7 linked regions of the Homo sapiens genome follow. The protein of the gene in region 7 purifies or fractionates together with the protein of the main gene of each other region. This does not show direct contact. Each region holds a gene or a part of one and is shown on either strand. Other genes may lie near its edges. The genes, in order: PFKP, HKDC1, FAR1, SFXN4, TLCD3A, DNAJC10 and MAPK4.

Region 1 (3,500 bases), on a different chromosome or scaffold from region 7:
ACCAACACGGTGAAACCCATCTCTACTAACGATACAAAAAAGATCAGGTGAGCATGGTGGCGCATGCCTGTAATCCCAGCTACTTGGGAGGCTGGGACAGGAAAATCGCTTGAACTCAGGAGGCGGAGGTTGCAGTGAGCCGACATCAAGCCACTGCACTCCAGGCTGGGCAAGAGGGCAAGATCCCGTCTCAAAAACAAACAAACAAACAAACAAAAAAAACACACACACACACAGAAATAAAATCTTAATCGTAGTAAGACACAGCTGAAAAGATATGAAGGACTGACTCCCCGAGGCTACTGCATGCCACCCTTTCAATCATTTTCCATTCAGGAAACTTCGGATCAGATCATTTACATATGTACGTTTAGACAAGGGGTCCTATATTAATGAATCTTCTCTGTCAAAATCCTGGTCAAAGTCAGAAAACAATCCCATGGGACTCCTGGGAGCATCTCACATTGGGGAAACCTGGAGAAGTGGAGAAGCTGATCTGCCCGATTTGCAAACCGCTCCACTGGCCCCAGGGGGTCCAGCAGCACCGGTGCCCTCCCCGTGAGAGTCGGAGCCTCACTCAGACCCACACAGTCAGGATCTACACCTCCGCAGGCTCCCCTAGGCATCTCTGGGCACACGGAGGCTGGGAAAATAGCACACGGGCCCTGGGGTTGGGGGTCCCAGCACAGTCCAGCCTATTCTCTTTTCCTCCTGAACACTTTCACTGTGGATATGTGTTAGGGAAGAGGGGAGGGAAGACAGAGACAGGGAGAGGAGACAGAGACTGAGTGATGCCTCCATTCTGCAGAGGAAAACATCAAGACCCTATCTCAGCACTCAGCACTCAGCACCCTGCTGACCCAGACAGCAGGACCAGGGCTAGGACCTATAAATGTCTCTGCCTCTCAGTGCTCTGGTCTGCCATGTGTCTGGCTGCCTCTTACATCCTGACAAGCACAATGACTGTAATTCCAAACACAGGACTGGGAGTTGGGGGTGAAGACGGAGAGAACCGAGGAGTGGGGAGGGAAACTGTAGCCTTTGGGCAGCTACTCTCTAATAAACAAAAACACAACACCAGAAAGGGCTTGTGGAAAAGAAACACAAAACGGAACCCAATTACTGACATACGGCCCTCTGTTCTATATTCACCCGCACTTTCTTAGCCGAAATGCCATTGTGAACGTGCAATCTGGTATCCTGATGTTTGTCCTGACTACGTTACCGTATCTTCACCTTTCTAATTTTAATTGCTTCTGATGGCCCATCAGATTGGTAGAGCCCTAATTATTTAAAGAGCCTAATTCTCCCTGATAAAAGGTTGGAGTCCTGTATCAAAAGCTTTTAGCTTTCTGTAACCAAGGGGGAAAACATGCTTCTTTCGAAAGATGACAAAATGTCTAGCTTCGAAGGGTCATTCGAGTATGGCACACAAAACGGTCTGCATTCACAGAAAATGATGCCATTACACAAATCTCCCACTGTGCCACATGGTGACACCATCATTCCAACACACTGCCTCCCAGACCCAGTAATTTTTGCAAAATTAATTACTGCACTTTACACTGAAAAGATCCCATCAAATAATGTATGTACACAGGAAGGTAACGGGCCCAGAGCCGTGGGAGGCAAAATGGCGCTGTTCTCAGTTTCCCCTTCCACCCTACTGGGCTCCGAAGCCAGCATTGCTTCAGACACCAAAGGTGCCCATGTGGGGCTCAAGCCTGGTGTCCAATAAATATGTGTGTCATTGACCTAATGCACGTCCAGCCAATGGAAACCTCACACTTCTGACTTCGGTTTTAAGGTTCTAATCTTGAAGTCTTAACAGTTTACACATATTGACCTGAGGATATTGGATACTTTTAATTAGAGAGGGTTGAATTCCTCTAAAGGACTTCATGGACGAAGAAGACAGCTAGAACCCCTGGTTTCCTGCTCCTCAGTGGAGATTCCAGGCAGGAGGCAGGCAGCAAACACTTGCATTCCTGCGAAGCGCCAGGCATGGTGCTGGGCGCGGGAAAGACACCAGTGAAGACGCAGGTACGCGCAGCCCTGAACATCCCTGCTGCAGCCACAGGGCCCGGCCCCACCACGGAGCTCTGTGAACTCAGGGAAGGTGGTGCAACTCAGGCGCCCCTTGCTCATGTGTAAAATAGGGATAAGTCATTGCCCAGGATCACTGAGGCCCTGCCACATAACAAAGAGTCATTAATGCTAGTTATTCTCACTAGGATTGGAAAGGTTTGTACTTACTCAATTTATGTGGACTTTCTATAAATACTGTATTGATATTCACCTCACCACAGGCAAAAAGGACGCAGCTTTCACATGCAGCCTACCCTAAGGATGCACCTGGACTTCCCAGTACACTCAGCTCCACCAGGCACCAGGACCTTCAGAAGCCACAACCTGTGACTAAGACAATGAGTCACTCTTGGTGTGTGGCACAGTGTTCTGTGGCAGTGGGGACTTAGTCATGGTAAGTCCGCCATTCAGAGTTATGGAGCTTATTTCAGATTGAGTGAAAATCAATTTAAGTTTCCAGACATGTCTTGGGACAACAGAAGATACATAAAGAGGCAGAAGAAGAGAAAGAAAAAAAAAAAAAAAAAAAAAACAGCCTGAGACAGAAGATATCCAAGCAAGTAGAAAAAACAAACAAACAAACAAACAAAAACAGCCTGAGAAATACTTTCTTCATTCAAGGCCCGGGGAGTCGGGAATATAGAAAAGAGAAAGAGATTTTCAATTGTATCTTATAATTAAATAATATACACTCTACTGAGAGAAGAAAAAGCAGCCCATCACATAATATCGTTCTTGCCACCTGGACTCCTATCACTATAAAAAGGCATTTTCCGTTCCCCTAACAAAGCCACCCAAAGAATATCTGTGTAATTTTGGGCAAATCGGGTTTTGCTCACTTTTGAGCATTAACTAGATAAAGCAGCTTCACCAAGAAAGGTCCCTGAAAAACATGGTGGAGATGGTGGAGGCCTGACACAATGGCTCATGTCTGTAGTCCCAGCTCTTTGGGAGGCCAAGGCAGGAGGATCACTACAGGAGGCCAGGAGTTCAAGGCCAGTCTCGGCAGCATAGTGAGATCCTGTCTCTACAAAAATAATAATAATAATAATAATAATAATTAGCTGGTCATGATGGTGCATTCCTGTCTTCCCAGCTACTCAGAAGGTTGAGGCAGGAGGATCACTTGAGCCCAGGAGTTTGAGGCTGCAGTGAGCTATGATGGCACCACTACACTCTGGCCTGGGTGACACAGCCAGACATAAGTACTCTTCGTGGTCTACGGGAGAGTACAATATTTGGAATTAAGATCTGTTTTGCTCCTATCACAATCACGTATGCACCTCATGCCCTTACCTAACTTACTTTTCTTTCTGAGTCTTTCTCCCCACTTCCAAAATGAGGACACGCCTCTCTTGGGATCATGTATTTAGGCTTGGAGATAAGAAGTGTAAAGCTCTTAGAATACAAAA
Region 2 (2,721 bases), on a different chromosome or scaffold from region 7:
CAAGAATGTGTTTGACAAAGAGTTTACAATCTATCTGGCCAGATGTGAAACTCATACAGATAACTATGTGGCAGAACAGAAAGGCACAGGCAGTTCAGGTAAAGTGGGGAAGAGAGGAGAGAGAGAGGAAGTCCACTGGAGAAATGGTCAGGGACAGGCCTATTACACATAGTTCTGCAGGGTAGAATGGAGATCAGTGGGGTGTATGGGAGGAACCGAGCTCAGAAGTCAGAAGGACTTCCAGTCCACTCCAGCCGTTCAAAAGCAAGAGCTGTAGGATCATGTGGGAAATGCTCAGTTACTGGAAGTATTCTAAAGACATCTGGATAATCTGTTAAGGATATTGTAGAAGATATTCCATATATTACCCCTGTTGGTAGGAAGTTTGGACTCGAGAAAAATGCTCAAGCTCCTTCTGACTCTGCATCCCTTATTCCATCAACAAAGCATGGTATTACCAAGTGAGCCTCCCAGAAGAAATATCACCACTTCATGCAAAGTTTATTGGAAAATCAAAATTTTTTTATTAATTTACTGGATTTCCTATACCTAACAATCCTTAAAACAACTATCAACACCTGCAACACAAACCACAGGCAAAATGAAAAACAGATGCCCCAGACAGCACCCCACCACATGGCACACACTTAATAAGGAACAAAATCCTACAGGGTGCTGACATAACTCGCTTTAAGCATGCAATGATTCCTGCAGTGCTCCCTGGCAATCAACCTCTCTGCACCCTGGGGCTGGATACTTCAAAGTCTTTGTTCTCTTAATAGGTTTGAAGTCAACATGGCAAGTTAAGGACAAGTTAGATGAGATCCCCCTAGTTCATAACGTGAGTTCCTCTTGCTCTCCAATGTTCATCCACAAGTACAGGGTCCAATCCCCTATAAGAGATGGCTTAAGCATCCCAATGGGGAAACAGCCTGCCAGCCACATGGGCAGATTCTATATATTTCCAAGTCCCGCAGCCACAAGACTGAAAGCCATAGAGAATTGACAGCTCAAGCCTCACCTGAACAATGTGTTGAAAGGGGATCTCTCAGGACAGACACTTTGATTTCATAAGTTGGCCCATTTTGGCCCAAATATACCAAATAGAGATGTCATGTAATGTCACTGCAAATCCAGTACAAGATACTAAGAGTACCCGAGAACCTGGGGTTCTCTTTCGGCCATCCAGAAGGTGAGGTCAGCCAGGAGGGTGCCCATTGGTCTCTGACCAACTGATCTGCCAGAGGAAAAGCTGTTCAGTATCCAAGATGCATCAGGTCCAATCCCAGGGGTTCCTAGTTCTCCTTCTGTGCCTGCTGTAACCTCTTGGCCACAGCAGTGATCAGTGCTGCCCCTTTTCCACTGCCATCTTCTGACAGCATGAATGTCACATCACATCGAGGGGCTAGTTCCTTCACAGTTTCCTGCAATATTCTAGAAAAGCTATGAAAAAGAGAAAGAAACATCATCAGCCCTTCCATGTAGAATCAGAACATTTATAAATGATCATAATCTAATTTCTTTAGCTTCTTCCCTTTGGTTTGCTTTTCAAGGCTCTAAACAGCTTCTTCTAATTTTTTTTTTTTTTTAGACATGGTCTCACTCTGTTGCCCAGGGTGTAGACTGCAGTTGTGCAATCACAGCCCACTGCAGCCTCGAGTTCCCAGGCTCAAGCCCCCCAGCTCAGCCTCCCATGTAGCTGGGACCACAGGTATGCACTATCACGCCCAGCTAATATTTGTAATTTTTGTTCATTTTGTATTTTATTTATTTATGTTTGTGGAAATGGAGTCTCCCTGTGTTGCCCAGGCTGGTCTCAAACTCCTGGGCTCAAGTGATCCTCCCGTCTGCCATTACAGGCATGAGCCACTGCACTCAGCCAACTTACATTTCTTGAGCCCCGTGTGAAGCACTTTACATGTGCTAACTCATTTCAACCTCACACATTTAGCCCTATGTGGTAGGGATTATTAGTGCTGGCCTTTTGTGGATGAGGAACCTGGGGTTTAGAGAGGCCGGCTAACATTCCCACATCGTATTACCAGGTAGCAGAGGCACCAGGGCTCACACCTTGTCTGTCAGATTGAATAGGTGACTTGACCACACAGCACTCCTTTCCCATAAAAGGACGGGGATGCATCTTCCCATGCCGCAGTTCAGGAGGCTATGCCAAGTCCACACTTGGCCGCCAGCCCTCCCCAGCCCCACCCGCCACGCCTCTTGTGGGCACTCACTGAGGGTGCAGCTTGTACAGGGTGCCGTCCACACCCACAGTGATCCTCAGGTGCTCTAGCCCCTGGTCTTCTCTCCTTTTTTCCACTATAGCGGCCAGGCCAGCACCGCAGAGCTGGGCCGCCCGCCGGGACACGGCTCCGCACACCTCCTTCACCACGATGCTGTCCTCACACGTGCTGTCCAGGCCCAGCTGCTGCAGAATCCTCCTGACCTGGAGAAGGGCCAGCCGATCGCTGCAGGCAATAGAGCAGGGAGTCAGGACCTGCTTCCCAGGACCCCGGGATGTGCCCAGTGTGACCCACAGCCTCCCCATTCTTAGATGCCCTTACAGGAGGGAGGAGAAATTGACCCAGGCAATGGCTAGGCTGGAGCAGAATGCCTTAGAAGCCGAGACTCAAGAAGGTCCACCACCCCTGGAAGTTCCATCAACTTTAAAAAATAAAGTGTGAATGCCTCTGGTGTTCAGCATGTTCATATCTGTGATCT
Region 3 (4,168 bases), on a different chromosome or scaffold from region 7:
ACCTATCTCCAATCCATTATCAACTGTTAATTTTCTCTCCTAACCAACATAAAAAATTATTTATCAGCTAAGCTGCAACATAGCCTTGGTTGATTTCCAAACCCCTAAATCTTCATTCGAATCTTCAATCATCCTTAAAAACCATTTTTAATTTGTCACTCTTGTCCACAGTTGCTTATACCAAGTACAAACTACTGGAATGTCATCCTCATGTCTTGTAATAACCCACATCCCAACTTCTAGTTCACATGATGGCTCAAAACTCACCTCTTTCAGGAAACCTTCCCTGATTCACTCCACGCCACTCAGATTACTTCTCTACTGCAAGTCGCCTCAGCACTTAGGTATTGTTATACTAAGGGCAAATGTGATCACAGTAAACAGCATCACTAAGAAATCGCTTTCACAAAATTGTTTCTAGATCATAAATAATGGTCCATTAGTTAAAATGCTTTGCTGATCTGGTTAACAAGCAAACATGTTACACAGCAAATGCTCTCTTTGGCTTCTGTCCTTGACTCTATAACTCTTCACAAACCTTTTGTCCTATCCTCAAACAGAAACTCTATCTCCCATTTAAATACACTGGAAATATGGTAGTGGGCCACCTTCTTTTCTACTACCTCTTCTCTGACCTCAGTCTCTGCCTCCAGCCTCTATCCACACCCCATAAATAAAAATTCCAAAAGCTTCAAATAGAATAGCAGTGATGCATACATACCATGTCTTTCCTGAGTGAAAAAAAAAAAAAAACCCTCAAGCTACTTAGCTACAAAATTCTTCACAAGGGTAATAAATTTCCCAACAAGCCTAATACATAATCAAACTCCAGAAAATTTATGTGGAATTTTTATGGATAAATTTATGGAATAATTTTGGCCGGCGCGGCAGCTAACGCCTGTAATCCCAGCACTTTGGGAGGCCGAGGCGGATGGATCTCTTGAAGTCAGGGGTTCGAGACCAGCCTGGCCAATATGGTGAAACCCCGCCTCTACTAAAAATACAAAAATTAGCCGGTGCGGTGGGGCATGTCTCTGTAGTCCCAACTACTCGAGAGGCTGAGGCAAGAGCTGATCACTTGAACCTGGGAGGTGGAGGTTGCAGCGAGCCAAGATCGCGTCACTGCACTCCAGCCTGGGCAACAAAGCGAGACACACACACACAAATTTATAAAATAAAAACAAAACAAAACAAAAATTATAAAATAATTTTATGGAAAATGTATGGAATAACAGGGCCTGGGTGGGGTGGCTCACCCCTGTAATCCCAAGCCTTTGAGAGGCCACGGTGGAAAGATCTCTTGGGCCGAGGAGTTTGAGGCTGGAACGAGCTATGATCTCGCCACTGCACTCCAGCCTGGGCGACAGCAAACCCTGTCTCTGTTTACTTTTTAAATTAATTTGAAAAAAATACATCAGGATTGTACTTATACGTTAATTCTCACTTGTATTACTGTAAGAGATCTTGCATCATTTTTATGCTATATTACACATGCCCAACATGACAGCTGAGAAACTCCCCTGGAGGGCAGATTTTCTGAGAGTATCTTCTGATGTTGTCTTTAAACCAACACTTTTTTTTTTAACATAAAGAATTAAGGGATTCCTGACTGCCATCTAGTCAAAAGCAAACAATATGTATGCCATTACTTCGGAGGGAGTGAGTTCTTGTGCTGCTGAGGCAAAACGAGATGAACTGTCACAGGGATGGCAGGAGGGGTGGAGTGTAGGAGGAGGATCAGCCCCAGTAGTGAGAATTAAAAACTCTTTTGAGTATTTGGCCCTCCACTAGCAGTAAATTAACCTTCAAACCTGACCAAGACACTACCTGAGACCCTCCACTCTCCGACACCGCAGAATCAGACAACTGTTCTTGCTCAACTACTCATAAAAGATTCACAGCCTTCACCTACCACACATAAATCTACCGCGTTTGCTGCTTGTATACTTTGTCCTAACAGACCAACTAATGCCTTCTAGTCCAATAGCCTCCCGTCCACACCTCACATAAAACCTTCTCAGCCACCTTCCGGTTTCAGTAGGTGCCTCTTACTCCAGATCCACGTGTCCCCAGTTCTCCAGAGACCTTCACCTTCAAAACCCAAGCCCGTCCCCCCTTCACTCCCAGCTGATCTCCACCCAGGCCCTATCAATCCTTACTTCTAATAGGCCAACCACACTCCCCGGCCCCGCGCCTTCTCCCTCAGCACCCTTTTCTGAGCATCACCTATTTCCCACCACTTTCTTCCTCCCCAGACCCGGAATCCTGCAATCACTAGGCCTCCCTTTGCCGCTACCCTCCCGCGAGCACGCGGAGCCCGCTGCTCGGCTAACCACCCCGCCCCACCTTCGCCACCTCTAGCGGCCTCCCACCCCAGGCGGCTCCCCGGGCTCCGCGGCTGCAAACCAGGCCCCACCGTACGTCCCCCACGCGGTCCCGGCCCTGTGAAGGGCGGCGGCGGGGCAAAGAGGGGCAGAGACCACCCGGGGTGAGGCGGGCGCCCTCACTTCTGGGCGTACCCGGGCGGGGGCGGGGGCGGGACGGCTGGTCGGCGCCCCCGCCTCGGCCAGGCCTGCAGCCCGAGCTCCCGCAACCACTTCCCGAGCCAGGCGAGGAGGAGCCCGCAGCCCGGCCGCTCCCGCTGGCGCACCCCCTTCTCACCTAGACGCAGAGGCTCAGGCCTCGCTCTCCCACTGGCCGTCCAGCAATAGCTGCGCCGCCGCCGCCGCCGCCGTCGCGCTCTCTTCACTCGCTTTTCCACCGCCCGCGACCGGCTGCTGAAGAGCGGACGGGCAGTGGCACGCCCATTGGCTGAGGCCCGCAGTCGCGTCAGCCGGCCCCGACCGCACCTCGCGACGTGACTGGCTGGAGCGGCGCCTCTTTTCGACATCCGCTTTTGATTGGCTCTCGCGCACACCCTTATCCGCAGGACCAGTCATCCTCCTCCCTGCTTTAGCCTCTCACCCCCAACCCGGTTTCCCTCCGGGCGGGAGTGGGGCGGGAGCGGACGCCCGCGGAACGCGAACGGCCAATGGGGGCGCGGAGAGAGGGCCGGGAGGTGGGCCCTGCGGCCGGGAGGCTCGCGGGGGAATGCTCAGCCAATGGGCCCGCGCCCCACATCTCGAGTCCTGGAGCGCCCCCGCCGGCTGCTGGCGTCCTGTCGGGTCGCGCCCAGGGCCACGCCCGGCTGTCCGTCGCGCGGGAGGGGCGCCAACTCCCAAGGTTGGGAGCACGCAGCGAGGCCCGCGCGGGAGACAGCGGGGCTGCCATTGTGGCGTGCTTAGCGCTATTATGGTGGGGCCCGGGGGCCCTCCGGCCATTGCTGGGCGTGAGGGATCCGTTCGGAGAACTACCAGCTTGGCGGGTGTGGCCCGGGTCGGTGAGAGCGAAGAGCTCTACGGACCCCTGGAGCCTCCACGGGTCTCGCCCAGTCCCAGGGGACTGTGGGCCCATTCATTCCACCTTCCACTTCCTCCAAAATAATTCCCTACAAAACTTACCGGTAGTGATAGGAGTTAGAATAACGTTTACTTCTGAGGGGTGGGGCACGAGGGAACCTATGGAAAGCTGGAAACATTGCGTCTTGATCCTGGTGGTCGTTCCGGGCTGTGTACACATGGAGGAATTCATCGAGCCGGACACTTAATAGTATTACCACATTCATACGGCTCATTTTTAAAAAATAATAAAAGGATCATGAGAATTCTGTAATAATATTACCACAATCTTTGGGCTCCGTGGGACTCCATTGTATAAACAGTCCGCATTAGGATTTAGCTGTCATTCAAAACATGCAAGCCATAGGAAGAAAAAAAAAGATTTGTGAGAAGCAAAAATGAGTGAACGCTCTTGGCACGGTGAATAGCATGCACAGGTTGGTATTTAGGGATGGATGGCTCAGAGTGATTTTTCTGTGGGGATTTAGAGCTTGTTTCAGTGCCTGGCCCTGTTAGTAGCTAAAAGCAGTCATAGTGCTGCATCCAGTTGGAAACTACAAAAGCTCACTGAACTGCCTACTTTGTGGCAGATGTTAAGTTCTGGCTCAGGAAACTAATTTGAATGCCATGGCTTCTGCCTCGATGAGCTCACAGTCTTGCAGCAAGTACTGTCATTTCTGGAGGAGGGCACAGAACACAAAGCTAACACACTTGCTTACCCTCAGGGATGT
Region 4 (3,500 bases), on a different chromosome or scaffold from region 7:
TTGAGACCAGCCTGACCAACATGATGAAACCCCGTCTCTACTAAAAATACAAAAATTAGCCGGGCGTGGTGGGGCATGCCTGTAATGCCAGCTACTCTGGAGGCTGAGGCAGGAGAATTGCTTGAACCCGGGAGGCGGAGGTTGCAGTGAGCTGAGATCACACCATTGCACTCCAGCCTGGGCAACAAGAGTGAAACTCTGTCTGAAAAAAAAAACTTAAGCAAAGACGAGGGAGGAATATGTTTCCAAGATCCCAGGGTTTCTCCTAGAATCCGGTAAGGAAGCAGGGGTGCTGGAAGCTGGTCCCAGGCTGTGGTCAGGATCCAAGACTGAGTGGCCAGCAGTTCTTAGCCTACTTCCACAGCCCCAGGAGAGCACTTGGTTGGCCCAGCCTATGGCAGGTGTCCACCTGAGGGTCAAGAAAGGCCAGCTGTCAGAGAAAGAGGCTTGCAGGGGGCAGACACCCAAAGAGATGTTCCTTTGCTGGAACAAGACTCACCCCCGTCTTGGGTGTTCTTTACTTCTTTACATCTACAGTGCAAGCCAGTGGAATGAATGTCTACATGTCCCGAAGTCTTGAATCCATTAAGGGGATTGCGGTCATGGACAAGGAAGGCAATGTCCTGGGTCATTCCAGAATTGCTGGGACAAAGGTAAGAGACAGGATGAAGCTATAGCTGCTTGCCTTTTGGGCAACGACTAGACTTTTCTGTTTGAAAGCCGGTGACAAATTCATGTCTGCCTTCAACCTTTCTTTACCCGTCTTTCCTTAGCATGCTGAGAGAGAAATTTCTCATTTTGCCCCCTGATAAGATGGGGCATTAGTCTGGGTTCTCTGGAGAAACAGAACCAATGGGATATATGTACATAATCTTTCTTTCTGAGACAGGGTCTTGCTCTGTCGCACTGGCCTGGAGTGCAATGGTGCAGTCTTGGCTCACTGCAACCTCTGCCTCCCTAACACAAGCGGTCCTCCCACCTCAGCCTCTCAAGTAGCTGGGACCACAGGCACACACCACTGCACCTGGCTTATTTTTGTATTTTTAATAGAGACGGGGTTTCACCATGTTGGCCAGGCTGGTCTCGAACTCCTGGCCTCAAGTGATCCACCCACCTCGGTCTCCCAAAGTGCTAGGATTACAGGCATGAGCCACCATGCCTGGCCCCCAATTCCTTTTTGAAATCTCTCAAAAGAAAAGCATGCACCTCTGTCTCCATTGTCCCTCCCATTCACTCCTGAGTTCAAGTGATCCTCCCACCGTGGCCTCCCAAAGTGCTGGGATTACAGGTGTGCACCACCGCACCTGGGCAGTACATGTCTATTAGGAGATTTGTTCTAAGGAATTGGCTTACACAATTGTGGGAATCTGCAGGGCAGGCCTGGAGGCTGGAAACTTGGACAGGAGCTGCTGCTACAGCCTTGAGACAGAATTTCTTCTTTGGGAAACCTCAGTTTTTGCCTATAAGGCCTCTAACTGATTGGATGAGGCCCACCCACATTGTGGAGGGTAACCTTCTTTTCTTTTTTTTTTTTTTTGAGACGGAGTCTTGCCCTGTCACCCAGGCTGGAGTGCAATGGCGTGATCTCAGCTCACTGCAACCTCCGCTTCCTGGGTTCAAGCGATTCTCCTCCCTCAGCCTCCTGAGTAGCTGGGATTACAGGTGCGTACCACCACGCCCAGCCAATTTTTGTATTTTTAGTAGAGGTGGGGTTTCACCGTATTGGCCAGGCTGGTCTCAAACTCCTGACCTCAGGTGTTCCGCCCGCCTCGGCCTCCCAACGTACGGGGATTACAGGTGTGAGCCACCGCGCCTGGTGGTAACCTGCTTTTCTTAAAGTGAGCTGATTGCAGACGTGCCCTGTGTCTGCAGAGTACCCCTACAGCAACAGCTAGATGAGTGCTGGATTAAATAACTGGGTACTGTTGCCATGGTGACCCGTGAGGCTGACTGCCACAGACAGGCATCTGACAAGTGCTGGGTACCTCTGAGAGTGAGATCCTATTCTTCAAATCCAATATCTGCCCTCCCAGTGTGTGCTGATTGGGGGCCACTCCCCTCCCAGCCTGCTCTGCACTTACAGAGGTCAGTGGACACCCCTTTCTGGGGTTAAAAGAGCCCCTGCTTCTCCCATTCAGCAGATGTCCTTATAGTCTTCATTGCTAAGGACTACTTTTGTCAAGAATGGACTTAGAACATTGAATTCTCTGATCCAAAACTCCTTTTCAAGGCCTCAATTCTGAATAATTTTTACTATTAGTTTCTTCTTTTTCTTCTTCTTTCTTTTTCTTTTCTTTCTTTTTTTTTTTTTTGAGACAGGGTCTCCTTCTGTCGCTGGAGTGCAATGGTGTGATCACGGCTCTACAGCCTCAACCTCCCAGGCTCAGGTGATTCTCTCACCTCAGCCTTCCAAGTAGCTGGGATTCTAAATATGCACCACCATGCCTGGCTCATGCTTGTGCTTTTTATAGACATGGGGTTTCGCCATGTTGCCCAGTCGTGTCTCAAACTCCTGAGCTCAAGTGATCTGCCCACCTTGGCCTCCCAAAGTGCTGGGATTGCAGGGGTGAGCCACTGGGCCTGGCCAAAGTATTCTTTTGTTCAGTTCAACACAGTGACTACTGAGTGCATTCAGCCGTGAGAACCTGGTATAGTCTATGGTCTTTTCATTTTGGGTGTGGACTTTTAAAATAATATGTTTTTAGCAGGTGAGATCTTTTTTGGTCCCTGTGAAATGACTTTAGCTGAAGACTTTAGTTGTTTGCAAATGACATATCAAGCAGAGTGGAACAGCCCTGATATGAAGTGAAGGGACTAACCGGGCTTCTGGCAGTGTGGGATCCAGAGGACTCCCTTAGCCAGCCAGGGTATGTCCTTCTACTGACCAGCATGTTGGTGGCAGGGAAGCTCAGAAAAGATGGTTGTTCATTCCATCGGTAAATACGTCATTATTCAGCTCACCAAACATATTACTTTAAATCCTATCACTGACTGACAAAGCTGAATTATAAACTATCAGATACATGCTAATGGTATTTCCACTAGACCATCTAGTAGCATAGCTCCTTACCTAAATGAATTATGACAGAGATAAAATAATTATAAGTAACAGAGAAATTGCTGCCAGTAAGAAAATAGGTCACTAGTTTGAAATGAAGGTTCTGGGCCTAACAAACCACCCGTAAGTTGGATCACTTGCAGTCGGTCAGGAGTTCGAGACCAGCCTGGCCAACATGGTGAAACCCTGTGTCTACTAAAAAGGCAAAAATTAGCTGGGCATGGTGGCGGGTGCCTGTAATCCCAGCTACTCGGGAGGCTGAGGCAGGAGAATTGCCTGAACCTGAGAGGTGGAGGTTGCAGTGAGCCGAAGTCGTGCCATTGCACTCCAGCCTGGGCGACAGAACAAGACCCCATCTCAAAAATAACAAACAAACAAAAACCACCTGGGACTGCATTTGCGCTTTCCCCTGGGGAAAAAAAAAAACGCCCGAAAGAGACAT
Region 5 (3,500 bases), on a different chromosome or scaffold from region 7:
TAAATGGCAGGACGGACACACAGGAATGGGCTTTGGACCACAAGCTCTGGCATATCGGGAGGCAAAGCACTCAAGTACTCTGCAGTCTAGATGACACATTTCATGGTTTGGAGGACAGAAGTAGGTTTCCACATCACATGAAAAGGACAGTGTCACAGTGGGGTTACCCAGTAAACAGCTACCAAAGCCATCATTTCACGCTTCCCTGTAGTTTTATGAGCTCGCCCTCTGCATGTGGATATGGGGAAAGCCGGGCATGAAGGGGTGTGTGAAAAAGAACAGCCTCTGTGACTGACTGCAGTAAGCTCACAAGTTTGTCACTGTCAGACTTAGCAAGTCAGCCTGCAAAGGTTGTGCTGATCTCTTGGCCACACTACCTACTCAGGTTCCCATCCATGCCTCCTGCCTGCCCCCACCCCCAGCCCCACCAGTGAGACTTCTGATTGGAAGTCTATAGACATAAGAATTCAACTCTGACCCATGGATGAGAGGATGAGGCAAAGAACCAATGGGTTATCTAGTAAACGATCAATAACTACCTACCCACAATGATTGTCCCAGGCCAATGTCACAAGACGACATTACTTCCAAGAACCAAGTCATCCCTTGCTTCTGCGGGCCCAGTGCCACGGGTACTGTCCTGAGTGGTTTGGAAGGTGGGTAGCCGCTGATACAGGGACAGGCAGATGTGCAGACACTTACCACCCTGGTCCACCGATCCCACCCCATGCTTCCACCTCCCAGAGCTCTTGAGATAAGACCTTAAGAAGGATCCTTGGGCTTGCATTAAAACCACTTTGCTGTCCGTGGAGGTCTGACAGGACCCAATAGTTGTTACTACAAAAGTGCTTTTGCAAATAGGGCAAGTTAGAAGAAGGAGGTAATATGAATATTCTTTAGAAAAACTCAAATCCATCGGCTTATCAATACCCAAAGTCTGAGGCTACCCAGGGCACAATTTGGTCCATGGAATGCTGAGTGGAGGAGGCAGCTGGTGTGAGGCTGCGCCTGACTCCCAGGAGCATTTAGCCATCCTTTTTGGCTTGGGGAGTGTCAAAGAGCCGGACTGCCTTCCTGCACAGCAGACAGAACCAGTAGATCTGAGGAGCTACGAGGAAGGCATTGGCCACGTTGCAGTAGAATGGGATGCTGAAGGGTACTTGGAGCAGGCTTAGTCCCTGCTGGCGGCCATAGGACCAGTACATGAAGGGGAAGAGAAGGATCCGGCAGGAAAGGAAGGTGGCCAGCGTGAGGATTCCATTCACCTTGTACAGAAGGGTGTGCTGCTGCTTTAGCTGCAATAGAAGAGGAAGGAAAAAGGTAAGGTCACCAAGAAGCTGGGCATCAGGGAGCGACGGGCCCAAGTCCCACCACAGTAAATGCCACACAGGTGCAGGTGCTCATCAAGACCTTGGCTGTCAGATTCCCTGGCGCCCAGACGTTTGTCTAGTTTTCTAACACTTGGAGAAGACATTCTTGAACACTATCATATTGAGATGTGCAAATAACCTCATTTTCTCCAATAGTGATTTTGAATTTGACCCAGGCCACCCAGCTGACAGGAGTACAGGAACCGTGGATTAAAGTATGTGTGTAACCAGGGAAAAAATAGAATGAGCTGTATCAAACTATCAAACTTAGATCAAACCTACAATTTCACCCCCACTGGCTGAGATGACCAGCTGACCTTTAAGGCTGTTGAAGGATCTCTCATCCCACTCTCCTGGCACTAGGGATTTCTCCACACCCACCATCTCCGAAGGAAAAGCAGAATCCACTCCCTCCCACACTCTTTCTGCCATTTCATTCATGCATGCCTGAATCAGAACCCTCACTCTCTCTGCCATTCATTCATACATGCCTGAATCAGAACCTTCACTCTCTCTGCCATTCATTCATACATGCCTGAATCAGAACCCTCACTCTCTCTGTCATTTCATTCATACATGCCTGAATCAGAACCCTCACACTCTCTGTCATTTCATTCATACATGCCTGAATCAGAACCCTGCCCAGCGACACAAACGGAGTGCTCAGTTCTGCCGTGAAGATGCAGCCGACAAAGAAGTCCCCAAGGTCTCCCCGGAGCCTCTGCGGATGACGAAACGAAAAGGGGAAGTAAGTGGAGGTTAAGAAACCACCAGAAGGAAAATTCCAACGAGGGCTACTGAAAAGGGTAACTGTGACGGGCAAAGGACGCTCAATAGGCAAGCGCAGACTACTGTACCGCTGCTTCCGTGGCAACAGCACTTTGATGGTCCAAGCCCTAGGATCCAGAGGCAAATTCAGACAGGATGACGGCGTCCCACACCAAGCTCTGAATTTTGATGACAGCCGGAAGGAAGGCTGCAAGCCTACTTTTGTGTATCGAACTTAGTCATGCCAAGACACTCAGCCTGTTTGGTTCAACAAAATGTGCCAGGCCCTGTGCTAGATGTTAGGGTCTCAAAGCACCCTAGATGTTCTGGTTCCTAGATGGTAGGTCCCAGACACTTCTTAAAGAATTTAATGCACGTTACCCTTATTTATTTATTTTATTTTTATTTTTTGAGACGGAGTTTTGTTCTTGTTGCCCAGGCTGGAGAGCAATGGCGTGATCTCAGCTCACTGCAACCTCTGCCTCCCGGGTTCAAATGACTCTCCTGCCTCAGGCTCCTGAGTACCTGGAACTACAGATGTACAGCATCACACCCGGCTAATTTTTGTATTTTTAGTAGAGATGGGGTTTCACCATGTTGGCCAGGCTGGTCTCGAACTTCTGACTGGGATTACAGGCATGAGCCACCTCGCCCGGCCTCTTTTTTCAAGAAAGCAGTAAGCATGGTAAAATATCAGCTCTGCCACTTAGTACCACTGAGAGATATAAGAATACTCTTAGAGCCCCAGTTTCTTCATCTACAGCATAAGACTAATAGCTTCTAATATTTAGCAAGCTATGAACTTTTAAATCACATGCCTGGCAGGGCGCGGTGGCTCACGCCTATAATCCCAGCACTTTGGGAGGCTGAGACGGGAGGATCCCTTGAGCCCAGGAGTTCAAGATCAGCCTGGGCCTCATAAGGAGACCCCCATCTCTTTATTTAAAAAATAAAATAAAACTACATGCCGGCCAAGAGCAGTGGCTCACGCCTGTAATCCCAGCACTTTGGGAGGCTGAGGCAGGTGGATCACCTGAGGTCAGGAGTTTGAAATCAGCCTGACCAATATGGTGAAACCCCGTCTCTAATAAAAATATAAAAATTAGCCAGGCATGGTGGCGTGCATCTGTAAACCCAGCTGCTTGGAAGGCTGAGGCAGGAGAATCACTTGAACCCGGGAGGCAGAGGTTGCAGTGAGCCATTGCACTCCAGCCTGGGCAACAAGAGCAAAACGCCATCTCAAAAAAATGAATAACTAAATAAATGAATAATTAAAAAAAAAAACGCATGCCTTCCCCTGGCCAGGCACTCAAGAGTGAGGAATTTCCCCTCAGCTTTCCCATTGCTTTTCTTTGTTGGGTG
Region 6 (4,196 bases), on a different chromosome or scaffold from region 7:
CCACCTCTTAAAGCATTTACCCTATTTGTCTAACATTCTCCTGTTCTTTCTCCAGTTTTGTATGCTTTGCATCCTCTCTCCAATAGCTGCCAGGATGATCTAAAATACAATCTCAGTCTCTTTTTTAAAAGCTTCCTCATCACCTAAGAGATAGAAATCTATGTCTTCATCTTGGTATAAAAACCTGTCTGTGATCTGGTCCCTGCTTCATCTTCCAGTTTTCTGTTTGTTTTTCAATTTACTTTAAGATTTTGTTACAGTGTGTAACAAAATGGTTACACACTGTGTCATAATGCTTAACATCATAGTCTCTGAAGCCAGGTTGCTTAGATGTGAATCCTAGCTCTCAAATATTTGCCTCAGTTTCCTCAAATGGGAAATAGATATAGGAGCCACTATCTTGTAAGATTATTTGGAGGACTAAATGAGTTACTACATGTGTGCTTAGACCAGTTCCTGAGACATATTAACTACTATTACATCAGGCTGCTTCTAATGTTTGCCTTTGTTCATTCTACTTCCTCTTCTTTCCTACCAAGTATTAGCTTAGCCATAGATCCTGTGTAGTTTTCCAAGTTTTTAGAAGCTGACACTTGATTTACTCCCCGAAACTGTTACCAATCACAACTTATTTCATGTTAGGGTTGATGTTATAAGCAGGTATCCTCTAGGCTCGGTTTTCTCTTTTAAATATAGAAAATGTAGTAAATATAACCACTTCAATTGTTATATTGCTGTGGGACAAAATGCAGTTCCTGTACCATAGCAGTAGGAGATCAAGGTAAGAGAGAACAACGATAACTCCCCAGTTTCTAGCTTGTATGACTCAGAATCCAGAAAATATTGTAGAAGTCTCAAATGCTTGTTGATACACACGCTTACACAAAATTGTAAATGTTTTAATTTCCTTCAAGTTTCCTACTGCCTCTTCAGTCCGCTAGCCTGATACTGCAATCAGTGTCGCTTCAGGCAACTTCTCCTTTCTCCGCCAAATTTCGCCTTTCGGTCTCACCCACCCATCACCCAGACAAATCCTCCAAAGCTCCGTCTTCCCTTTAAAAGACTCTCAGGGAACTCAACCCCAAAACCCACCCTCTGGGTTTCCCCGTCACCCTGGCAACGGAAGCAGGAAGAGGCGGGCTTCGCCATCCACCCTCCCCGCCCGCGGCAGGCGCCGGCCGCATTGGTGAGGGGGCGCGGGCTGCTTGGCCAGGGCAGTTCCCTCAGCTCCGGGTTGGAGCCGGAGCCGGAGCCGGATCCCGCGCACACCGCCACGTCAACCTAAACCTACACCGCCCTCTCCACCCCACCGCCGCAGCGCCCGCTGGGCCCGCAGCGGGTCTCCCCAGGCAGCGTCCTCCACGCCTTTCCCACAATGCTCCGCGCCAGGCCCCGCCCCGGCTCGCCGTGGAGACCGGCGCGTGAGGAACCTACCGGTACCGGCCGCGCGCTGGTAGTCGCCGGTGTGGCTGCACCTCACCAATCCCGTGCGCCGCGGCTGGGCCGTCGGAGAGTGCGTGTGCTTCTCTCCTGCACGCGGTGCTTGGGCTCGGCCAGGCGGGGTCCGCCGCCAGGGTTTGAGGATGGGGGAGTAGCTACAGGAAGCGACCCCGCGATGGCAAGGTGGGCATGGGCCCGGGGCTAGGGCTTTGCTGGAGCCGGTGGTGGCCTGGGCCCTCCGGTCAGGGAGGGGCGGAATGGCTGAGCGCCTGAACCTCCCTTCCTGTGCGCTCTTAAGACCTGGATATTGTGTTCTCGCTCCCCACCTTCCTCCTCCCTGTTATTCACACCACCCTTCCTCTGCCCAGCGATTCCCTCTCAGTTACTTACACTTTCTCCCTAAGTCCGACCTGAGACTTCAGACACCAGCAACACTTAACAGCCCTGTTCCCCCGTGTCTTCATCTTTACCCCTCTCCCCTCTCCCACTCTGCAGTGATGGCAATGCGAAAGCTTGCGCCTTGCATTTACCTGGCGCTTCCACCTGCCCGGTAGCTCGGGCCACGGGCAGTTCGGCCACACCCACGCTGAGAACAACCCCTGGGCGAGAAACATCTTATCCCAAAGTGTTGATTGAGACTATGCCCTCTCTTTTTCTGATGGTTGTTTTCTTGTTTGGATACTTGTTAATCTCTACATCATTATATTTTTCAAAGGTATATTTTTGTGGAATGAAAAGGAAGTATTAGAAATGAGCTGAAGACCATTCACAGGTAAAGAGAAAAATTTTTAAATATACATTTAGGATTAAATGAAAAACAGAAATGAGGTGCGAGGAGCGTTAGATTTTTCAAAGCATTACGATCTCTTTGGAACTAAAATATAGTGGTTGAAATGTGATATGATGAAGTAATGATTGTTTTTGCCCTGCAGAGAGTATGTCTAAATAACCGATTCCCTTCTCTTTTTGTGTTTTGTTTCTACTTACACCAAACATGAACTTTGCAATAAAATTACACTGGTAACTTACAATTGTTTTTCTACTATTTTTAAAAAATGGCCTCTACTTAAATTCAGTATAAGCACCTTCTGAGGAAACTCCGGGAAGAAGATCGACTGCTGTGTAGATTGTCTATTATAACAATATATTTCACTGTCATTTCTGGTAGGGTTATATGAGAAGTAAAAAACCCTATGTTTCCTTCTAGTCCCTCCCAAGGACATTTCCTACAAGTGAATTCTGCTGAAAATGAAAATTAGACAGCTTTAGGAGGTAAAGAAGTAGCTAAAAGGAAGAGGTATTACAGGCAACGCTATAACTGGGTAGAAAGAGGAAGCACCTGTAGCTCATTGCCACCTTTGTGTTCTGATGCTCGTCAGAGGTCTTTTCTCAGTGTATAAATTGCTGAGGGTGTGTGTGCAAGCTACTTACTACCACTCATGACCTTTTTTCTGCTATCTTCAGTGATTTCACAAATCTAGCTACATGGATGTAGAAAGAGTGAAAAATAGAACCTGGGGCATTCACACTGATTTGCCATTTAATGGAGATTGTATTGCTGACCATGTTCTGTGATAAATAAATTGTGCTATTATTGTTTAGTTCAAAATGTATTTTAACTGCCTGCTTTTCTTTCTTAGATTAATATTTTTGGGGACAGATTTGTGATGCTTGATTCACCCTTGAAGTAATGTAGACAGAAGTTCTCAAATTTGCATATTACATCAACTGGAACCAGCAGTGAATCTTAATGTTCACTTAAATCAGAACTTGCATAAGAAAGAGAATGGGAGTCTGGTTAAATAAAGATGACTATATCAGAGACTTGAAAAGGATCATTCTCTGTTTTCTGATAGTGTATATGGCCATTTTAGTGGGCACAGATCAGGATTTTTACAGTTTACTTGGAGTGTCCAAAACTGCAAGCAGTAGAGAAATAAGACAAGCTTTCAAGAAATTGGCATTGAAGTTACATCCTGATAAAAACCCGGTAGGTAAACGTTTGTTTTTAAAAATATTTGATTATATTTTTGGTACATTTTGATATTTATTTAAATTGCTTTAAATGATCAAATGCTTAAGAATAATCATATGTCAAAATTATAATTCAACTTGTATGCTAGAAACAAAAGCACCAAAATGTTCTGGATTATTTAGGATCCCGTGAAGGAATGTCAGTACCAAAAATTCAGTTCCCTCTTAATTTGTAGACGATTTTCCAACAATTCTATTAAAGACATTAACCCCAAAACAAACGATAATATCCGTGAAGTAGTTGAAGTAGTTTTCTTATTAAAGTAGGTTAAGATCAAGTGTTTTAGAACAGGAACAAAAATATTTTTTTAAAACTCAGAGGGTATGACTTGCTAAAAATAGAAGTAATAGCTAATAATAGCATGTTTTAACTTTGACTGTTTTCTTCTGTGTATGCACAAGTCCACAAACCAGAGTTAGAAAGTTTTATAAATTAATACTTCACAGCAGCTGAATATAATGCCAGTCATAAATATTTATGTACACATTAATGTAAATCTTTCAAAACTAAACTCATTTTAATTTTTATGGTGTTTTTGTAATTTATTTGATTATTTCTTAGTGAGATTTAGCGTTCATCATTAACAAGAAGACATAGTTATAATTTTCTCTTTTCTAGGTAGAAGTTTTAAAATAGGATTATTTTCATTGCATAAAGCTGAGCAAGAGAAACAATATTTCTTTAAATATTGTTTAGTTGATTATCTTTTCCTAAGATCCAC
Region 7 (3,500 bases):
AGCTAGGAATAGCTTGGGAATGCTGCAAGTATTCTTGGGGATTCTGTGGACCACCAGTATCCGCCATTCCAGCCAGACATACCTTGTGGGAGTAATGCTGATCAACGATCCTTGCCAACCCGAAATCCCCAATCTTGAGCACGAGGTCCTCTGTGCTGATGAAGATGTTGGCGGGCTTCAGGTCCCTGTGCAGCACGTTGGCGGAGTGGATGTACTTGAGCCCGCGGAGCAGCTGGTACATGAACAGCTTGGCATGCTCTTCTGCCAGCGTGCCCTGCTCCAGCAGGCGTGCCAGGTCGGTCTCCATGTACTCCTGGACGATGTACGCCACGCTGAACTTGAACAGCTCACCCTGCAGGTCAGTGCCCTTGGGACCGAGCACCTCGTACACTTTGACGATGTTGTCGTGGTCCAGGCGCCGAATGATCTTGATCTCTCGGAGCGCGTGCTTCATGCTGCGGGCATCGCTCAGGGCAATCTTCTTCACAGCGACCTTCCGGCAGGCCCGGCTGTCCACGGCCGACAGCACCAAACCATTGACACCGAAGCCCAGGGGTTGGAAGTCAACAAAGCGCCCACCGAGGTCATACCCATAGACACTGGCGATGCAGTCACCCTTCTCAGCCATTGTGGGCTCAGTGATCTGGAGCTGCCCAGGTAACACAGGGGCAGTCAGGAAAGGCCAAGTCTCGGCTAGCGGCCTCCCTCGCGCACCTCATTCTGTCAAGTCCCACGGCTGAGGGATGTGTTTTCTCCTAGTGAGGTCACTGCCACCAGCTCTCTGGAGACGAGAATGGCATATGGTCATGCTCGCTGAGCTGTGCTAGTTGGGGGCGCAGGCTGTCGTCTTAACCTGCATTGGGAGGGCTGTCTACTAATTCCTGTGTTTCCTGAACCCTTCTTAAAGCTTAGAATGGCTCATATTTCTTTTAAAGCTGGCATCTTGGAAAGAAAACCCAGTATCATTATCTATGGAATGTCAAGTTTTCTACCATAGTGGACTGCAAAGTAAAAGATGCAGAAACTCTCCCCTTTGAATACTTTGTTACAAGAGGCTCTTTCTGGCTGAAATGCAAGAGTTGTTTGCTGAGCTGAGCTCCTTAAGATGCTCCAAAGCTCAGCTGTGTCACAGCCTCTTTCTGTGTTCCAAGCAGTATGCAGGGATCCCATCAATGAATTCTGGAGGCATCCAGGGGCTTCTTTCTACCTCTCCTGTTTCTACCAGCTCACCTTAGATTCCAAAACCTGAGCCAGTCTGGTAAGCACTGGTGAAAAAAGCTGGAGAAACACAAGCACCTTTCATGAGCTCTACACCAAGTTACGCCTGAGGTTCCAAATGCAGGGGAGCTCAGCTGCCAGGCCAGGATCCTCTGGAGCCTTTGGATGTGGGCAGCATCCTCTTTCACCAGCTCATCCACGCCACCTCGCCCAAGACTGTATTCCACTGCACCAAGAGAGGCTGCAGGAATGTGGCATCTTTCAGACCAAGTCTCCTTCCCTGTCAAAGAAATAACGTTGGGTAAATTTCCACACTCCGGCTTCCAACACCTTCCCACTTGCGTCTTTTGTTAACCAGCCCAAGTGTTATTTGATCTGTCCAGCCAGCTGAAACACTGCTTGCTCAGGGGATTCCGGGGCTTTGCACTGCCCAGCCACCCTCCTGCTGTGCGTAGCACTCCCCTGGAAGAGACAGAAGATGGATTGATTTGATAAGACCATCAGATGCTGTGCCTCTTATGTCAGTGCCTGCTCCCCCAAGTTTAACATGTGCAAATTACGGTGGAGAATTATCCCTTCTGACCTTCGGAAAATTAATTTGTTTTATGCTCTCCAAACACACACATCAGCGCTAGCTAGGAAGGGTGAGAGTAGAAAGCAATGAGTTGCAGACAGAAAACAAAGGATCGATACTCGTGTTTTTGCACTTGGGTTCCTTTTCTTCCTTCTTTTACAAATGTCTTTGAACATTTTAAGAGGCTTTCACAGGGACTAAGATGTAATGACATTTGTATCTCTTGCTTTCCACGTAAGTTGAAGAAGCCCATGTACCAAATTACAAGGAAATAATGTTGCCACCTATAATAAAAGGACTCTCTTTGCCCAGAAACCAGGGTGCAGAGTTCCCAGTGCTATATCAAAACTGGCATGGTGAGCTGTATTCTTTTTGACAATGTGACCTCGCTCTTCAAAGCAATGGGTCAAATCTAAACTTCACTGTCCCTGCCCTCTGGTGGCTGTTGACTCAAATTACAGGTATAGGAACTAAGTGGGGAGGAAAAACCCTGCAAAACTAGACATGTAAATTCAGATCTCTGAAGTAAGGTAATATCATAGCGTCTAAGAGACTGGCAGGTTTTCTAAGTTCATAAAGACCACAGACACACAAAGAAAGAAGACTGTATCCAACACAAAGGCATGAACTTGGCAGACTGCTGCTTTATTCTCATATCGCAGGGCCTCCTATAGAGACACTTTGCTATCTGAACTTCGCACAACTCTGCAAAGATAAATGAAGCAAAAACGATAGTCAACTCAATGCTCTGAAATTAAGGGGGCAAATTAGGGGACACAGATGATCTGAAATAGTAAACAATCAGATCGCCTGTAAAGACTTCTAATGAAGGAAATTTGCCAAGGGTCTAGAACATAGTAATTGCTTAACAGATGTTACCTATTGTTGCTGTTTAGTTAAACATTCCCTTACATTTGAATAAGATGTACTCAAGATTCTGATAATTTGTCAGATCTTCGGTAATTCTGTTCTGCATGTTTTTACTGGGTCCAGGAACAAAACAACCATAGACTTACAGAATTTCAGATTGGGAAGAAATCTAAGAAAACAAGGCCCGTGGTCCTTATCTGGAGATGGTACTGCCCTCCTCACCTTATTTGACTGGGAGTCATTACTGGTATTTAATGGGTAGGGCCGGATTTGCTAACCATTCTACCGAGCATTCCCACCTCCATGCCCAAATGCCCAGAGCACATCCACTGACATCCACCCCTCCACCCCTGAATGCCAACAGCACTTCCACTGAGAAACATCGATTCTGATTCCAGTTCTAACTTTACAGGTGAGGATACCAAGGCTTGGAGAGCACCAGCTTAGTGCTTTCAGCATACATAGGGTCAATATCCATCTGATGAATGGATAAATGAATACCATTCACTCTGTTTGAGGATGCCCAGCCACTAAGAGACAGTGCTGGGAGCACCCAGTGAACCAGATTCTATGGCCTGTGCTAGCGAAGTTGGCCTGGATACCTAACTCAGGGGAATCAAAGAGCCTCCACAGCTCTCCATTCTCTCCCTCCTTGACTCCTGCTGCCCAAGTCATGTAATGGCAACTACACTGAAGCTTCTCTTTCTCCCCACAAGCCTGGTCTGACTCCCAAGGGCATAGCAAAAAGAGGCAATTGCATATCATTATTTTTTTTAGGAAGAGACATGCTTAAGCCTTCTTCCTTTCCAGCTTCTGCTGGGTTGTAAACAGAGAGAGG

Evidence for each region.
Region 1: the proteins of MAPK4 (region 7) and PFKP purify together in Homo sapiens (affinity purification with mass spectrometry; 2 studies listed by BioGRID and IntAct, with this or other methods). This does not show direct contact.
Region 2: the proteins of MAPK4 (region 7) and HKDC1 purify together in Homo sapiens (affinity purification with mass spectrometry; one large-scale study listed by BioGRID and IntAct). This does not show direct contact.
Region 3: the proteins of MAPK4 (region 7) and FAR1 purify together in Homo sapiens (affinity purification with mass spectrometry; one large-scale study listed by BioGRID and IntAct). This does not show direct contact.
Region 4: the proteins of MAPK4 (region 7) and SFXN4 purify together in Homo sapiens (affinity purification with mass spectrometry; one large-scale study listed by BioGRID and IntAct). This does not show direct contact.
Region 5: the proteins of MAPK4 (region 7) and TLCD3A purify together in Homo sapiens (affinity purification with mass spectrometry; one large-scale study listed by BioGRID and IntAct). This does not show direct contact.
Region 6: the proteins of MAPK4 (region 7) and DNAJC10 purify together in Homo sapiens (affinity purification with mass spectrometry; one large-scale study listed by BioGRID and IntAct). This does not show direct contact.

The regions. Positions count from the first base shown.
Region 1 is NC_000010.11:3,070,548-3,074,047, reverse strand, and holds part of PFKP (ATP-dependent 6-phosphofructokinase, platelet type), read right to left. Parts: intron 1-3,500. UniProt on the Homo sapiens protein: Catalyzes the phosphorylation of D-fructose 6-phosphate to fructose 1,6-bisphosphate by ATP, the first committing step of glycolysis.
Region 2 is NC_000010.11:69,265,332-69,268,052, reverse strand, and holds the end of HKDC1 (hexokinase HKDC1), read right to left. Parts: intron 2,469-2,721; coding exon 2,235-2,468; intron 1,444-2,234; coding exon 1,296-1,443; 3' UTR 501-1,295; downstream 1-500. UniProt on the Homo sapiens protein: Catalyzes the phosphorylation of hexose to hexose 6-phosphate, although at very low level compared to other hexokinases. Has low glucose phosphorylating activity compared to other hexokinases. Involved in glucose homeostasis and hepatic lipid accumulation.
Region 3 is NC_000011.10:13,667,300-13,671,467, reverse strand, and holds the start of FAR1 (fatty acyl-CoA reductase 1), read right to left. Parts: upstream 2,801-4,168; 5' UTR 2,662-2,800; intron 1-2,661. UniProt on the Homo sapiens protein: Catalyzes the reduction of saturated and unsaturated C16 or C18 fatty acyl-CoA to fatty alcohols. It plays an essential role in the production of ether lipids/plasmalogens which synthesis requires fatty alcohols.
Region 4 is NC_000010.11:119,152,215-119,155,714, reverse strand, and holds part of SFXN4 (sideroflexin-4), read left to right. Parts: intron 1-537; coding exon 538-653; intron 654-3,500. UniProt on the Homo sapiens protein: Mitochondrial amino-acid transporter. Does not act as a serine transporter: not able to mediate transport of serine into mitochondria.
Region 5 is NC_000017.11:739,096-742,595, reverse strand, and holds part of TLCD3A (TLC domain-containing protein 3A), read right to left. Parts: intron 2,092-3,500; coding exon 1,996-2,091; intron 1,296-1,995; coding exon 1,026-1,295; 3' UTR 1-1,025.
Region 6 is NC_000002.12:182,714,861-182,719,056, forward strand, and holds the start of DNAJC10 (dnaJ homolog subfamily C member 10 isoform 1 precursor), read left to right. Parts: upstream 1-1,396; 5' UTR 1,397-1,623; intron 1,624-1,830; coding exon of another isoform or gene 1,831-1,904; exon of another isoform or gene 1,905-1,937; intron 1,938-2,155; 5' UTR 2,156-2,212; intron 2,213-3,080; 5' UTR 3,081-3,226; coding exon 3,227-3,430; intron 3,431-4,196. UniProt on the Homo sapiens protein: Endoplasmic reticulum disulfide reductase involved both in the correct folding of proteins and degradation of misfolded proteins.
Region 7 is NC_000018.10:50,661,087-50,664,586, reverse strand, and holds part of MAPK4 (mitogen-activated protein kinase 4), read right to left. Parts: intron 1,681-3,500; exon of another isoform or gene 1,499-1,680; 5' UTR 629-1,498; coding exon 83-628; intron 1-82. UniProt on the Homo sapiens protein: Atypical MAPK protein. Phosphorylates microtubule-associated protein 2 (MAP2) and MAPKAPK5.